Regions from separate parts of the Homo sapiens genome. Here region 2 is linked to region 1. A link means that fine-mapping ties the variant in region 1 to the expression of a gene that starts in the linked region. Tissue or cell type: whole blood. Region 1 holds a variant in brackets; the other region holds the start of a gene. All regions are shown on one strand. Distances are between the middles of the regions.

Region 1 (8,103 bases):
TTGTTTTTGTTTTTGAGACAGAGTCTCGCTCTTGCCCAGGCTGGAGTGCAGTGGCACTATCTTGGCTCACTGCAAGCTCCGCCTCCCGGGTTCACGCCATTCTCCTGCCTCAGCCTCCCGAGTAGCTGGGACTACAGGCACCTGCCACCACGCCCAGCTAAATTTTTGTATTTTTAGTAGAGATGGGGTTTCACCGTGTTAGCTAGGATGGTCTCGATCTCCTGACCTTGTGATCCATCTGCCTCGGCCTCCCAAAGTGCTGGGATTACAGGCATGAGCCACCGCACTGGGCCCAAAAGGATTCTTTTTAATCCTGAATTCTTCTAGCCATTATCCTGCCTAAGGCTACGATTAACCTCTAACTGCCAGGTCCTTTGGAATCTTTTTCTGTCTTTATTGCTGCACTTGAATGTTGGTTTCACCCTCCTTCAGAATTTCCTCTTCTGTATTTTTTATGTTTATTGATCATTCCTTCCCTGCCTCATTCCTGGGCTTCTTTTCCTTCACACACCCCTTAGATGTGTGTCCCCAGTGTTTGTTTCTTTGCCTGCTGCTCTTGCCACATGACACACACTGCCAGCTACCACACACAAGTTCCCTCCTATCATGTGTGTATCATTGCCCTTATACCATGTTGTATTAAAATTATATGCTTGTCTCCCCTGTTACAGTTTGAGCTCTTTGTGCTCCAAGTAAAGACAGTGATACTGTCTTTATTATTTATTCTCATGGTCTAGTATAGTGCTTTGGCACATAGTACAGGCTCAATATAAATGTGTTTGAATAAATGAAATTCAGTGCCTTAATACACTTTTGTAGAAGCATTATTTTATGGAAAGAATGAAAAAGCTGTAAGTGGTCTTACATATATAGTCATCCAGCAGATACTTAGAGAGCTCTGGGATGTGTTCCTTGCTGTGCTTGTTGCTATGGACAGTACGGAGAAATACAAGAATCTATTTTGGGTCCCTTTTGAGAACCTAGTGAAACTGTGTACCTAGTGAAACTGTATACCCTCACCCTAGAAAAATTTACACACATGTAGATTTTACATGTAATTCTTTTAAAAATTAATTTTTTTTCTTTTTTTTAAAGAAACAGGGTCATGCTCTGTCACTCAGGCTGGAATGCAGTGGTGTGATCATGGCTTACTGTAGCCTCGACCTCCTGGCTCAAGCGACTCTCCCACCTCAGCCTCCCAAGTAGCTGGGGCTACAGGTGCACGCCGCTATGCCCGGCTAATTTTTAAAAATATTTTATAGACACTGGTTCTCACTATGTTTCCCAGGCTGGCCTTTACCTCCTGGGTTCAAGCAATCCTCTACCTTGGCCTTCAAAAGTGATGGGATTATAGGTGCAAGCCACTGTGCCCACGCTAATGTAATTTCATGGTGTTCACAGTTTCTTCAGGGAGTTCATATACGCCATGTACTCTATTCTAAGCATTTTTAGAGTTAGAGATAGCAAAGCACGTGAATAAATTCAAGAAAAATGGAATGTTGTACTGCATGACATTGAATATCAAATGGAGTCAGCGATGCAAATAATTGTCTAGATTTTACAAAAAAAATTAGCCTGGTGTGCTGGTGTGCGCCTCTAATCCCAGCTACTCGGGAGGCTGAGACAGGAGAATCATTTGAACCCAGAAGGTGGAGGTTGCAATGAGCTGAGATCGTACCACTGCACTCCAGCCTGAGTGACAGAGCGAGACTCCATCTCAAAAATAAAAAATAAAAGAATTGTGTAGATTTTAGTAGTTGGAAGAAGTTGGAGTGTTAATGTGTAATTAGAGAACAGTGAGAAATAAAATTCTACAGATTGTTTTATTCTGGTGTGCTGTTGTGTTCTCATATGGTTGTCTTTTTGGTCTTGATAGTGTATCAGTAACAGAGTACGAGTAACAAACAGGGATCTCTTCTGAACGGCGTGACATTAGAAAAGCTGTTTACGGCCTCAACTTTGCTGTGGTTTATTAAGACACAGATATGTGTTCATTCTGGGGCCAAGCAGTAACTGGAGAGTGGCACTTATTGAGGCCAGTATGGAGGCAGTACAGAGATTATTGAGATTAAAAGAAAGAAACAGGTGGAACGGATCTATGTAATGGAAAGCTAAACAGAATAGTTCGTGGTACACAGTAGAAAAGCATTACATGTTTATTAAGATATGGTCATCTTCCATTTATTAAAGTTACATGTTTTATAATTTTTAGAGTATATAGAAATTCTCTACCCTATCATGTTTGCCAAAGTCAGAACAATAACTTCATTTATTAAATATAAAAAAAATAAAAACCTCTAGCATAAAATAGAATTTTATTTGGACAAACGATAAAAAAATACTGTGTGGTACTAGTAAGAGTAAGGTTGATTCAAGATACATGGGAGCAGAATCCAAAGTGTAGAAATAGGCCAGGTGCAGTGGCTCATGCCTGTAATTTCAACACTTTTGGAGGCTGAGGCGGGAGGATGAGTTCAGGAGTTCAAGACTCGCCTTGGCAACTTGGCAAAACCCCATCTCTACAAAAAGTACAAAAATTAGCCGGGTGTGGTGGTGTACTCCTGTAAACCCAGCTACTTGGTGGGCTGAGGTGAGAGGTTCACTTGCAGCCAGTAAGTCAAGGCTGCAGTGAGCTGTGGTTATGCCACGGCACTCCAGCTGGGTGACAAGCAAGACCTTGTCTCAAAAACAAACCAGCCAGGCGTGGCGGATCACCTGAGGTAAGGAGTTGGAGACCAGCCTGGCCGACATGGCTCTACTAAAAATACAAAAATTAGCTGGGCGAGGTGACGGGCACCTGTAATCCCAGCTACTTGGGAGGCTGAGGCAGGAGAATCGCTTGAATCCAGGAGACGGAGTTTGCAATGAGCCGAGATGGTGGTGCTGCACTCCAGCCTGGGTGACAGAGCCAGACTCTGTCTCAAAAACAAAAATAAGCATAGGACATGGGGATAAATTGAAGATTTATGAAGACACAGCTGAAGGAGACATAAAAGTAGATTTGGCTAAATGGAAACATGCCATACTTTGAATGGAATTATTTAATACTACAACGTTGTCAATTTTCCTCAAATAAATCTCTAAAGATAATATATTCAGTTTTGGCCGGGCACGTTGGCTCACGCCTGTAATCCCAGCACTTTGGAAGGCTGAGGTGGGCCGATCACTTGAGGACGGGAGTTTGAGACCAGCCTGGCCAACATGGTGAAACCCTGTCTCTACTAAAAATACAAAAATCATCTGGACATGGTGGCAGGTACCAGCTACTTGGGAAGCTGAGGCAGGAGAATTACTCGAACCCCGTAGGTGGAGGTTGCAGTGAGCTGAGATTGCACTCCAGCCGGGTGACTCCATCTCAAAAAAAAAAAAATTTTTATAATATATATATATATATCCGTTTTTGTAGAAATTGACAAAATGATTCTAAAGCTTATTAGATTATGTGTATTAACAGAAGAACTTTGGAAATTTTTTTCCACAAGAGTCATAAAGGAGGACTTGCCCTACAAAATATGTCAGAATTAAAACATAACTTGTCAGCTGGGTGCGGTGGCTCACGCCTATAATTCCAGCACTTTGGGAGGCTGAGGCAGGCAGATCATGACCAGCCTGACCAACATGGAGAAACCCCGTCTCTACTAAAAATACAAAATTAGCCGGTCATGGTGGCGCATACCTGTAGTCCCAGCTACTCGGGAGGCTGAGGCAGGAGAATCGCTTGAACTCGGGAGGTGGAGGTTGCAGTGAGCCGAGATCGCGCCATTGCACTCCAGCCTGGGCAACAAGAGTAAAACTCTGTTTCAAAAAAAAAAAAAAAAAAAAAAGAATTATAACTGTCACAGTGGCTACGTATGGAGCATCCAAAACTGAATTTATGTGGGTATTTTATTAATATGCAATATAGCACTTTAATTCTGGAGGAAAGGTGGATTATTCAGTAAATGATTCTGGGACATTGGGGACAAATTAGATACCTACTTCACACTGATAAATAAAACCAAATAGATTAATGAGAAAACTGTGATTAAACAAAACAACACCCAGACTACACTGGAGCAAATCTGTGAATTTGTTTAATTTTGAGTGGAGAAGGACTTTATAAGCATGACTACCAGAGCAAAAAAATCATGAAGTAAAAGATCGATACCTTTGATTATAAAGAGATTAAAGATTTAGGCCGGGTGTGGTGCTCACGCTTGTAATCCCAGCACTTTGGGAGGCCAAAGCGGGTGGATCACTTGAGGTCAGGAGTTTGAGACCAACCTGGTCAACCTGGTGAAACCCCATCTCTACTAAAAATACAAAAAAATTAGTCAGGCATGGTAGCACATGCCTGTAATCCCAGCTACTCAGGAGGCTAAGGCAGGAGAATTGCTTGAATTTGGGAAGTGGAGGTTGCAGTGAGCCGAGATTGTGCCACATCACTCCAGCTTGGGC[G/A]ACAGAGTGACTCCATCTCAAAAAAAAAAAAAAAAAAGACTTAGACGTGTCCAAAAGTACCATACATTTAAAAAGACATGCCACAAACTGGGAAAAGTAGAAAAATAGTTTTAAAAATGACCAGTGAATGTATGAAAAGGTGGCCCTCCTCACTTGTAATGATTTAAGAAATGCAGTTTATTTTTATTTTATTGTATTTTTAAAGAAATTCAGTTTTAAAGCAGTGGAATATGATTGTCTATCAGCTTGCGCTGAATGGTAAATGTGAGAAAGATTACTACTACTTAGTGGTACTGAGGGAGTTGCAAAACACTTAACACTGCTAGTGGGATGGTTTAAGTAAAACAAGTAGCATTCTTAAACTCTCTATTAGGTAAAGAATAGGTAAGTAATGCATATGTTTCCAGGACATTTTCAGTAAGACTGTTTACTGATAGGGTTGTGTAATGCTAATATACTTACTATCTAGTTTTAGTATTATTTTTTTCTCTTGTCTTGGATGGTTTCAATGGAGTCTTATGCATGCAGATATATTAAAACTAGTAATAAAGCAAGAGAAGGAATGTGGATAAATTATCTCTAATTTCTATTTTGTTCTATTTCTATTTCATACTCCTGGGAAAGAATATTAAGTGGGCATGTGTACTTGAACAGTTGTTCTGTTTTTTATTAGAAAAGAATCCGAATCTATAAAATGTTTTACATATTTGCCAGGGAAACAGAAAAGATATTTGTACAGCTGTAAGAATTGGAATTAATTTCATTTTACTGACTTTTCCTTAACCTAATTCTGAACACTTTTGCCATAGGTTTGAGAATAAGTTGTTATAAAATGACTACTATTCTTCACTAATAGTATTGGCATTTCAATTCCTAAATTCTGTTTTTTGATTCTTGAACATTTCTGAATTTACTTTTTTTGTCTTAGTTCTTCTACAGAATCATTTTCTTCTTTTTTCTTTTTTTATTTTTATTTTTTATTTTTGAGACAGAGTCTTGCTCTGTTGCCCAGGCTGGAGTGCAGTAGCGCGATCTCGGCTCACTGCAAGCTCCGCCTCCCGGGTTCATGCCATTTTCTCCTGCCTCAGCCTCCCGGGTAGCTGGGACTAGAGGTACCCGCCACAGCGCCCGGCTAATTTTTTGTATTTTTAGTAGAGACGGGGTTTCACCGTGTTAGCCAAGGTGGTCTCAATCTCCTGACCTCGTGATCCATCCGCCTCGGCCTCCCAAAGTGCTGGGATTACAGGCATGAGCCATCGCACCCGGCCTTCTTTTTTTCTTTCTCTTTAACTTCTGAGCTGAAAATAGTACCTTTTATAAAGAAGTGCTCAAACGATGATTGGACTGATTTCTCCTTATTTCTCTCTTTCTCTCTGTCTCTTTCACTCTCTTTTTAGAATTTTTCTTTTTTAAGTAGAGACGAGGTCCCACTATGTTGCCCAGGCTGTCTTGAACTCCTGAGCCCAAGCAATCCTCTTTGCCTCAGCCTCCCAAAGTGCTCGGATTACAGGCTTAAGCTATCACACCAGGCCTAGGCTAATTTCATATTTTGAGATGGCACAAATTTCTTTCAGGTAGCTAGCTTTTCCTCCTCCTCCCCACTTAAAATAGATCCTGATCCAGAAGCCTAATGGAGAAAATGAAAACAGAATGTTCACCCATAAACAGTATCTTTGTATTGGAATCTTTTCTAAAACTTCTTTTGATCTTTTTAGGAGATAGTGTGGGAATCAGCAATCTAGTATTACGTACGTGGAATCTGTCACCTTGTTTTTTTAAATACAGCAAACCTCATGAAGTGAATTTCCATATTTTTTCTTGTTCTTGTTAGTTTTGCACCACTCAGGCTTTGCTGTAGAATTTGATGTATATTTGATTCTGTAGAGCATGGGCTATTGATCTTCACTCAGCTTTCAGAGGAATCTGATTAGTAAGTTTGAGTTTTTTATTATTTTTTAGTTGATTTTGAAGTAAAATACAGCACCATTTTAACTGATACCATTTCTAAACAATTTTCAGTTCAAATTTTAAGTTAGCTAATTTAGAGCTTAAGAAAATTGCTTTAAAAACATAAAATTACTGGCTGGGTACAGTGGCTCATTCCTGTAATCTCAGCACTTTGGGAGGCCAAGGCAGATGAATTGCTTGAGCCCAGTAGTTCAAGACCAGCCTGGGCAATATGGTGGAACCCCGTTTCTACAAAAAAAATACAAAAAGTAGCCAGACACGGTGGTATGTACCTGTAGTCCCAGCTATTCGGGTGGCAGAGGTGAGAGGATCATCTGAGCGCAGGGAGATTGAGGCTGCAGTGAGCCAAGTGAGACCCTGGTTTCAAAAAAAAAAAGGTTACTAATTGCAGTGCCTTTTATCTTATTTAATGGGCTTAGTCAAACTAAGATGATGTATTTTATCTTATAAATGTTTTCCCTTGAATTTTAACTGAAGAATCCAATTTGTACCTCTCACAAACAGAATGTATTAGTAAGGAAAATAAATACTGCTTTTTATTACTTAAATAGGATATATTTTTCTCTTAGGGATTTTTTTTCTATTTTATCTCACTTTATCGTAGTGCTAGAAAATTTAATCATTCATTTGAGATAGGGAGAAAATTAGGTTTTTTTTTTTCTTCTATTTTGAGACAGGGTCTCATTTTGTTGTCCAGGCTGGAGTGCAGTGGCGCCATCGTAGCTCACCATAACCTCAAACTCATGGGTTCAGGTGATTCACCTTAGCCTCCTGATTAAGCTGGGACTGCAGATGTGTATCACCACTCCTGGCTAATTTTTGTTGTTATTTTTTGTTTGATGAGGTCTCATTATGTTGCCCAGGCTGGTCTCAAACTCTGGGCCTCAAATGATCCTCCTGCCCCAGCCTCCCAAAGTGCTGGGATTACAGGCATGAACCTCTGCTCCCAGCCCATTTTTTAAAATATATTCACAGCATTGTGCAACCATCACTACAATCAATTTACATTTTCATCACCCTGAAAAGAAACTCTGAACCCCTTAGCAGTTCCTCTCTGTTTGTTTCAATTTTCCCCAGCTCCAGGCAACTATTGATTTATTGTCTTCATAGGTTTGCCCATTCTGGACATTGCGTATTAATGGAATCATATAATATATAGCCTTTTTTTTTCTTTTTTTTTTTTGAAACAGAGTCTCACTGTGTCGCCCAGGCTGGAGCGCAGTGGCATGATTGCAGCTCACTGCATCCTCTGCCTCCCAGGTTGAAGCGATTCTCCTGCCTCAGCCTCTTGAGTAGCTGGGACTATAGGCGCCTGCCACCACACCTACTAATTTTATATTTTTAGTAAAGACGGGGTTGCACCATGTTGGCCAGGCTGGTCTCGAATTCCTGACCTCAAGTGATCTGCCCACCTCGGACTCCCAAAGTGCTGGGATTGCAGCCATGAGCCACCGCATCTGGCCATATATATTATGATAGGCTTGTTTCACTTAGTATGTTTCTTCCATGCTGTAGCATGTATTAGTACTTCTTTCTTTTTCATGGCCAAATATTCCATTATACAGTTACACAGGTACACTACATTTTGTTTATTCATCAGTTGGTGGACATTTTCATTGTTTCCACCTTTTGATTTATACATAATCCTGCTGCGAACAGTGACTTTTAAAGTTTTTGTGTGGGCCGGGTGTGGTGGCT
Region 2 (8,103 bases), 140 kb after region 1:
CCCTGGGGAGGCTGGAACTCTTGGCTTCCATCGGGCAGGCGAGGTCCAGATCAGAGAAGCCAGGTAACCTGCCTAGGACCTCACACCTGGAAGCTGGCAGAGCCCAGATTTGGCCCCAAAGTCCATACTGCTACCAGGGAGAAGTGGGAATTTAGCAGGAAAAGCCTCTTGTTTTATTAATAGCAATAATATCTACTATTGTTAATTGAGTGCCAGGCTCAGCGCTCAGTGCCTTATGTGCCATGTCACAGCAAGTGCACAGCTGTTAAAGCCTTTCACAGATGTTGTCTCAATTGCCTCAGAGAGCTTAAGTGATCAACCCAAGGATCCCCAGCAATGGGAGACCCTCATGAACACCAGCCCTCAGAAGGGTGTGGGGTCATGTAAACTGGGTCCCAAAGGTGTTTCCAGCAAAAGGAGCTGTATTGGCCCAGACTGTGGGACAGCTCCCTACTATGTCCCTGAGACCCCCTTCACTGACCCTCCCCACCTTGGCTGGGGAGGGCACCCGGTCTCCCCTCACCACAGACAGGTGGCACTGAGACTGGCAGCGAGGAGGTCCCTCCAAGTGCCTCCAGCTCTGCTCCACCTGGGATATGGAGAATGTCTGGGGGTGGCACAGCGGGAGCCAGAAATCCAAGGGCCCAGCAGTCCTGTGGGATCTGATTTGTACTCAAAAGTTCTATTTATCGGAGAAGGAGGATCAGGCCCAGGTTTGAGAGGCATGGGGGTGGGGGTGGGGGGATGAGGAAAGAAAGCCAGCAGAGCTAACACCCACAACAAAAAAGATCATTCCGGCCCCAAGGCTACTTCTTCTCTTCCTCCTGACCAAGCCACTCTGGACACTGTGAATTCACTCATTCATGGTTCCCATGACTCTAGGAAGTAGGTACTATTAGCACACCCATTTCACAGATGAGGAAACTGAGGTGGGGCAGTTAAGCAAGGCCTTATAGCTAAGGAAGTGCCCAGATCTTCAAAATTCTGCTCCCAAAGACCCAGGAAATTCCAGTGCTATGTATGCAAGAGATGCTCAAGGGAGACTACTGAAGGAACACCTCATAGCCAATAACAGTAACACTAATGAAGGCAATGATAAAATCACCACTACCACCACCACCACCTGCAACTGAACCTCTCTTTGCCAGGCAGCAGGTGCTCATTACACACTGGCTCATTAAATCTCCACTGCAAACCTGTTACTCCCCCATTTTACACAGAGGGAAACTGAGGGCAGAGTCACTTGCCCACGCCTTCAGCTGAACGAAGGCAATAGGAGTAGCAAAGCACAGTCTCCAGGACCCTCCTCACTATCCTCCTCCACTTCCTGCTGAGCCCCTGCAGACCCTGAGCCCCCAGCTGCTGATGCTCTGAGCCAGCCCCTTCCCAGCTGGCCGCTCTGTGGCCCACAGGGACTCACAAAAGTTCTAGGAATGCTCACCCTTTGGCTCAGAAGGATTTTCCCTCCCAGAGGGGGTAGTGGGAAAAGGCTCAGGAAAAGTGCACTAAAAACCCTTCCAACTTCCCCCAGTAGGCCCTGGCTCTCATCCTCCGAGCCCAGCCTGCCCAGGTGGCCTCTGACGGCTCTCCCTCCACGAGGGCAGGTCCCGAGGAGCCTCCAGAGCTGTTTCCACTCAGGCAGCCAGGTCAGTGATGGGAAACCCAGACACAACCTGCGCCTGCATCCCTGGAGACCCACAGGCCCACTGCCCTGGCAGGGGCCCTGAGGCCTGGCTGCTAGCCGGTGTTAGGGAACTGTCATCTCCCCGGCGAGGGGCTGCGGGTCAGATCTCGGTCCCTCCTGCCACCAAAGCTGGCCTTGCCGACATTGCCTTGCCGGGGCCTCTGCTCTGAACCCCCCACCAGATTTCACTTCCTCCCACTCAGCCCAGCCTGGCCGTGCCCCTCCCTGGAGGCCCCCAGCTGCAGGCAGTGACCTCCTCACCTACATCATTGTGGCTGGGAATGGGGAAGAGAAACAGGAGAATGAGGAAACTAAAGAAAAAAAGAAGCGGGACAGGCAGGCAGACCCTCCTCTCCAGTTCCTCAAATGCAGTCCCCCTCCCTCAAAACAAAGCTCCCCTGGCCGGAGGGAGGGAAGGGAGGGAAGGGGATTTCTGCACCAGGCATCAGAGACCTCTGAAATACCATCCCTACCGTGCGGATCTAGAAGACCAACACCCACTCCAGACGTTTTTTGGTCGGGGGATTCCCAGGGAACCCCAGGCAAGAGGTGTGAGAGGATCAATACCAGAAACCTGTCTCTGGGACGCCTAGCCCTGGTGAACCGCCCAATTCAGCAGCATGCGGGGGCCTGGCCCGGTCGACCTCGGCAGTGCAGGAACTGGGGAGAGGGGCTTCCTGAATCAGGGCGCTACCCTCTTAGCCACATGGCCCGGAATGGGGAGTGGGGAGGGGCCGGCGCATCCTCCCCCGCTGCCCCCACACCCAAGGGCTCATCTGTGCTCACAGCCTCAGTTTGACTACTTTCACTTTCAGGGTAGCAATGGGTGACCCCTGACCGCTCCTCCCCAGGCACAAGTTGAGGGGAGGGCCGCCCCCAACCGGCGAGGCTACCGTAGGGTGGGCTGGGGGCGTCAGCGATGCCCTCTCCCCCATCCCACGGCCTCAGTTACCCCAACGCTCTCCCTAACACGTGTGTGGGTGGGGGTAGTGGCTGAGTGGGGGGTCGTAGGCGCTGGGAGCCGTCACCCCGGAACGCCTCCATCCGAGTTGGCTGCAGGGCAGTATTTTGGGCTGGGGGTGACGCGCAGAGCCCGGGCAGAACTGGACACGGGGCCTCCTCTTTCCCCACAAAAGCCCTCCCGGCCCCGGAGGAGGGGAGCGCGGGCAAACGCGGGCTCACCTGAGAGACAGGAGCTCTGGGCCCGGCCGGCCCATGGCGTCGCGCGCCCCCGGGCCCTCGAAATCCCGAGGGGGCGGGCGGGCCCCCGCCCTGGGCGCGTCCTCTCCCGCCCGCCGGCTCCTCGCTCGCGGCTCGCTCGAGCGGGGCTCAGGCAGGAAACCCGGGCTCGGAAAATGGCCAGCGCCTCATCATTTCCGCCGCCAGCGCTTGACAGTTGCGGGAGGATGCGCCCCCGGGCCGCCGCCGCCGGGGAAACTTTGCAGCGGCCGCCGTCGCCACCGCGGGCCGCGACAGTCCGGGCGGGCAGCCGGGCGGAGGCGGTGGCCCGGGCCCATGCCGCCCCGCGCCGTTATGTAAAGAGGAACCGGCCGTGCGAGCGGAGCCCGGCGGGGGAGGCCGGCCGCGACAGGGGCGGGGCAGGGGCGGGGCCACCAGGAGCCACGCCTCAGGCCGCGCGCGAGTCGGAGATTCGGCTGGAGGGGCGGGCCATGAGGGCGGAGCCCGGACTGGCCCCGCCTACCAATCCCGCTAGTCCGCGGCTGCCAGGGTCGGAGGGCTCTCCTGGCGCGGGTCCGGAAAAAGGCGAGGCCTTGCGAAGCCACGCCCACCACGTGCCCACCCGATTTCGCGTCCCACAGTCTGAAGATAGAAGTGAGGATCGGAGGGGCGGGGCGACTTTAGCCCCACCCACTCAACGCCGGCAGGTCACCAGGTGCCTCAGCGCCTGGAGGCGGGGCCAGATGAAGGGGCGGGGCCTAGGGCGGGCAGGGTCGAGGGGCCTGGCCTCCAGGGGGCGCGCCCTTGCTGACTCCCTCCTGCAGGGCCTTATCAGTGCCCGCAGGGCTGGGCGGTGCAATAGCGACCACGGCTTTCATCATCGCCCCAGGGAGGGAGCCCAGCCCTGCCCGACCCTGACTATCTGCGATCATGCTGACCCGACCCGCCACGGCCCCAGGCCCCCGATTTGGGTTCTGGCCCCAGCCCTCAGCTTTGCCTTTGCTACAGCCGGTGCCCGTATAGCCCAGCCTCGCTCCGGCCGCCCGTCCTGTCCCCCAATTCTAGGAGGGGTGCATCTTTCTCCAGGAAGCCCTCTCCGACCGCTGGCTTCCGTGGCCTCTGCGCCCACCCCCCTGCCCGCCCCCGGGCTACTTACATTTTCTCCACGGCCTCATGGGGAGCTGAGACGGACAGTGGGGTTCCCCCTAGTCCGGAGTGGGACATGCTCTCAGCCAGCCTCTCCCCCAACATGTGGGAGGGCGGGGAGGGAGGAATGTACTCTTCTCCCCCTCCCCCAACAGGAAACAAGTCGCCCACGCCCCCAGCTTGGAGGGGCCACCTCGAGTCTTCCCAGGCAGCAAGTGTCTCCATTCCACTGCCTCCCCCTCTTCCTACCCGGGCAAATGACTTGACTTCTCCGTACCTCTCCACTTCCTTGCCTATGAAATGGAAATAATGTGTACCCACTCTCCTGGCAGTGAGAATTAAGTGAGTTAATGCATTAAAGCAGTTAGCTCGAGGCTTGGCTCCAGGAAGCTCTCTGTGTTAAACAAATCGGCCCCAGTCCTGACCTTAGAACTACAGGAAGGGGTTCCCCAGAAGGTGGGGATTTCCAGACTCCGAGTAGATGGGGGAAGGGAGCGGTCTGCTACAGGATTCCTGGTGTCCAATGACCTTGAAGAAAAAGGCCACAAAAATCTGCTTTCCGCACATTTCCAGGCACTGTTCTAGGCGCTGGGAACACAGCAGTGAACAACACAGATATCCCTGCCTGCGTGGAGCTGATATTCTAGTGGGGGGACATAAGGCACGAATAAGCAAGTGGGATCAGCTATGACAATGACAAAACAGTTACGGGATGGAGAGCTGGAAGGGGATGTCTTAGATCCAGGGCTCAGGAAGGACACCTCTGCGGAACTAACATGTGAGCTTAGAACCCTCCATGACAAGAAGGATCCAGGTGCTATAACGTCTGAGGGAAGAGCATTCCAGGCCAAAGGAACAGCATGTGCAAAGGTGCTGAGGTGGGAATACATGTGGTGCTTTGGAATAAAGTCATAAAGGCAGTGGTGACACCTATACTGGTAAGAGATGATGTTTCAAAGGTGGGCCCATCACATGGTGTCTTGAAGGTCTTGGTGGGGACTTTGGGAATTATTTTGAAGGCAGTAGGGTGCCATGGAGGGTTGTGAGGAGAAGGACCTGTGGAGTGTGGGATTCAAGCTGTTCACACGGCATCTGAGGATGTGGGAAGAGGGGTGGGGTGGGGGAATGTCAATGAAGTCTAAACGAGGCCGGGTGTAGTGGCTCACACCTGCAATCTCAGCACTTTGGGAGGCTGAGGCCAGCGGATCACCTGAGGTCAGGAGTTTGAGACCAGCCTGGTCAACAGGGTGAAACCCTGTCTCTACTAAAAATACAAAAATTAGCCAGGCATGGTTGCACGCACCTGTAGTCCCAGCTACTGGGGAGGCAGAGGCAGAAGAATCGCTTGAACCTGGGAGGTGGACACTGCAGTGAGCCAAGATTGCATCACTGCACTCGAGCCTGGGAGACAGAGGTAGGCTCTGTCTCTAAAAAAAAAAAAAAAAAAAGTCTGAATGGATCATCCCATATTATTTGATCACTTTCTTATACCTGGGGACACTGCGGCCAAGAGAGAACAGTTACTTGTCTGTAGCCATGCAGCTGCCAGGCAGCACCCACAGAGCAGCCCGGTACCCAGCCAATGCCAAATGGCTGCTGAAATCTGCCAGCCACAAGCACTTTCCCTCTCACTGCCCAGACAGCAGCTCTGCTGACTTAAATTGGGACTTGTGGTTCTTCCCCTTTTTAATCACGGTTCAAACCTTCTCGCCTGCCAGATTTCTCGGAGGCCCAAACTGGTTTCCTTCCTCGCTTAGTCGCTTCTTGCCCACATCCCCGCCAGAGTCCAGTTTTTTGTTTTGGCGCTCGCTGAGACCCCAAGACTTCTCACTTTTTGTGTTTATTTTCCCTTGGAAAGGCAAAGGGATTCCAACAAATAACCTTCCCATCACCGTGCCCAGATTTGAGAGTGCCGCTGCCACGAACACAGCGAGGTCGTCGTCGCCACTGGGAGGCCGGCCAGCCACGGCTCTTCCCACTCGGCAGGTCACTGGGACCTAAGGAGAGAAAGGGTTATTCAAATTCCCATGACTGATCCGTAGCTCCCGGAAACAAGCCAGGCCGTCTTAGGGGAGCAGGTCCAACCGCCCTTCCTTCTTGCTGTGAAAAACACCAACACCTCCTGCTGGCCAAGTTCCAGAAAGCCGGAGACTCACAGGATTAATAACAATTACAGGCCACGCGCGGTGGCTCATGCCTGTAATCCCAGCACTTTGGGAGGCCGAGGCAGGCGGATCACCCAAGGTCGGGAGTTCGAGACCAGCCTGACCAACATGGAGAAACCCCGTCTCTACTAAAAATACAAAATTAGCCAGGTGTGGTGCCGCATGCCTGTAATCCCAGCTACTCAGGAGGCTGAGGCAGGAGAATTGTTTGAACCCGGGAGGTGGAGGTTGCGGTGAGCCGAGATCGTACCATTGCACTCCAGCCTGGGCAACAAGAGTGAAAATCCGTCTCAAAAAAAAAAAAAAAAAATTAAAAAGATAACGATTACAACACGAGTCAACAGCAATAAATTAACAATGATCAATGCTATTAATATTCATATTAGCAATTCGTATTAATAATAATTTAAATAACAACAAAAGTTAACTAGTACAAACACAAATACATGATAAGTGCTTGAGGTGATGGATACCTCATTTACCCTGATGTGATAATTACACATTGCATGCCTGTATCAAAATACCTCACATACTCCATAAATATATACACCTACTATATACTCATAAAAATTCAAAAAGTGGGCCAGGCGCGGTGGCTTAGGCCTGTAATCCCAGCACTTTGGGAGACTGAGGCGGTGGATCACAAAGTCAGGAGTTCAAGACCAGCCAGGCCAATATGGTGAAACCCCATCTCTACTAAAAATACAAAAATTAGCCGGGTGTGGTGGCGGGTGCCAGTAGTCCCAGCTACTCGGGAGGCTGAGGCAGGAGAATCGCTTAAACCCAGGAAGGGGAGGTTGCAGTGAGCTGAGATCACGCGACTGTGCTCCAGCCTGGCAACAACAGAGCGAGACTCCGTCTCCAAAAAAAAAAAAAAGAGTTCTCTGTTCTGTATCTCCTAGCTGTGCAGTCACATAGATTCTCTGGGCCTCAGTTTCCTCATCTGGAAAATGGGGACAGTGACAGGACTGACCCCATTGGGTTGAGGGGGAATTTGATGAGAAAACTCACATTGAGGGCTTAGGAGTGGGGGAGGTACCTCCACATAGCAACGACTGATAAAGAATGTTGAATATAGTGCAGGCTCGGTGGCTCATGCCGGTAATCCCAGCACTTTGGGAGGCTGCAGCAGATGGATCACCTGAGGTCGGGAGTTTGAGACCAGCCTTGTCAACATGGTGAAACCCTGTCTCTACTAAAAATACAAAAATTAACTGGGCGTGCTGGTGGGTGCCTGTAATCCCAGCTACTTGGGAGGCTGACGCAGGGATAATTGCTTGAACCTGGGAGGCGGAGGTTGCAGTGAGCCGAGATTGCACCATTGCACTCCAGCCTGGTGACAAGAGTGAGACTTCGTCTCAAAAAAAAAAAGAATGTGATTATAATCTATGATTGGGTGTGAGAGTCCCGTGTCCCTCGAGGGTTGTGAAGAGGAGTGGCCACAAAGACCAGTCCTGTAAACAACAGAGCTTCACACCCCTTTTACAGATGCAGACACTGAGGTTTGAGAGCAAAGATCTTGCCCAGGGTCACCCAGCCAGAGTGGAGGCCTTGCTGTCTGCATTTGTAAAATGTGCTTCTGCAGGCCTGGGCCACAGGCGAGGAGGAGGCCCGGGGACCTGGCCTGGCCTGGCCCCCAGCTGGGCAATGGCTACTGCTGGTGTTTCCCATGCCCGAGTTTCCATCACGGCACTGCTGTGCAACCTCCAAAGGTCCCCTCTTGCCACCAGCAACAGGCTCCCACTTTCTGAGCCTCAGTATCTCTGGCTTGTCAAATGGGCATGATAGTAGTTGGGTGAAGGGAAATGACATTGTGTAGGACACTTTGTCCCTAGTGGCCTTCAGTGAATGCACAGAGTGCTGAGCATTATCAAAGGACACTGCAGCACACTGGGCTCCTCCTGGCTGTTCCTCAAACTCACCTTCATG

Evidence for each region. PIP is the estimated chance that this variant, and not a neighbour inherited with it, causes the effect.
Region 2: it holds the start of SH2B3, and the variant in region 1 is fine-mapped to the expression of SH2B3 in whole blood (INTERVAL, PIP above 0.99).

The regions. Positions count from the first base shown.
Region 1 is chr12:111,537,068-111,545,170 of GRCh38, reverse strand. The region is part of intron 5 of ATXN2 (ataxin 2); the gene reads left to right. Among named protein-coding and RNA genes, the nearest start is that of ATXN2, 58 kb to the left of the region's middle. The variant G/A (reference allele first, on the strand shown) is at 4,438.
Region 2 is chr12:111,401,041-111,409,143 of GRCh38, reverse strand. It overlaps SH2B3 (SH2B adaptor protein 3), which reads right to left and starts at 3,221. Exons shown (of 8, transcript NM_005475.3): 1 at 2,867-3,221. LINC02356 (long intergenic non-protein coding RNA 2356) reads right to left here. Exons shown (of 4, transcript NR_187522.1): 4 at 5,834-6,006. RefSeq lists silencers at 2,883-3,462, 3,583-3,742 and an enhancer at 5,765-6,014.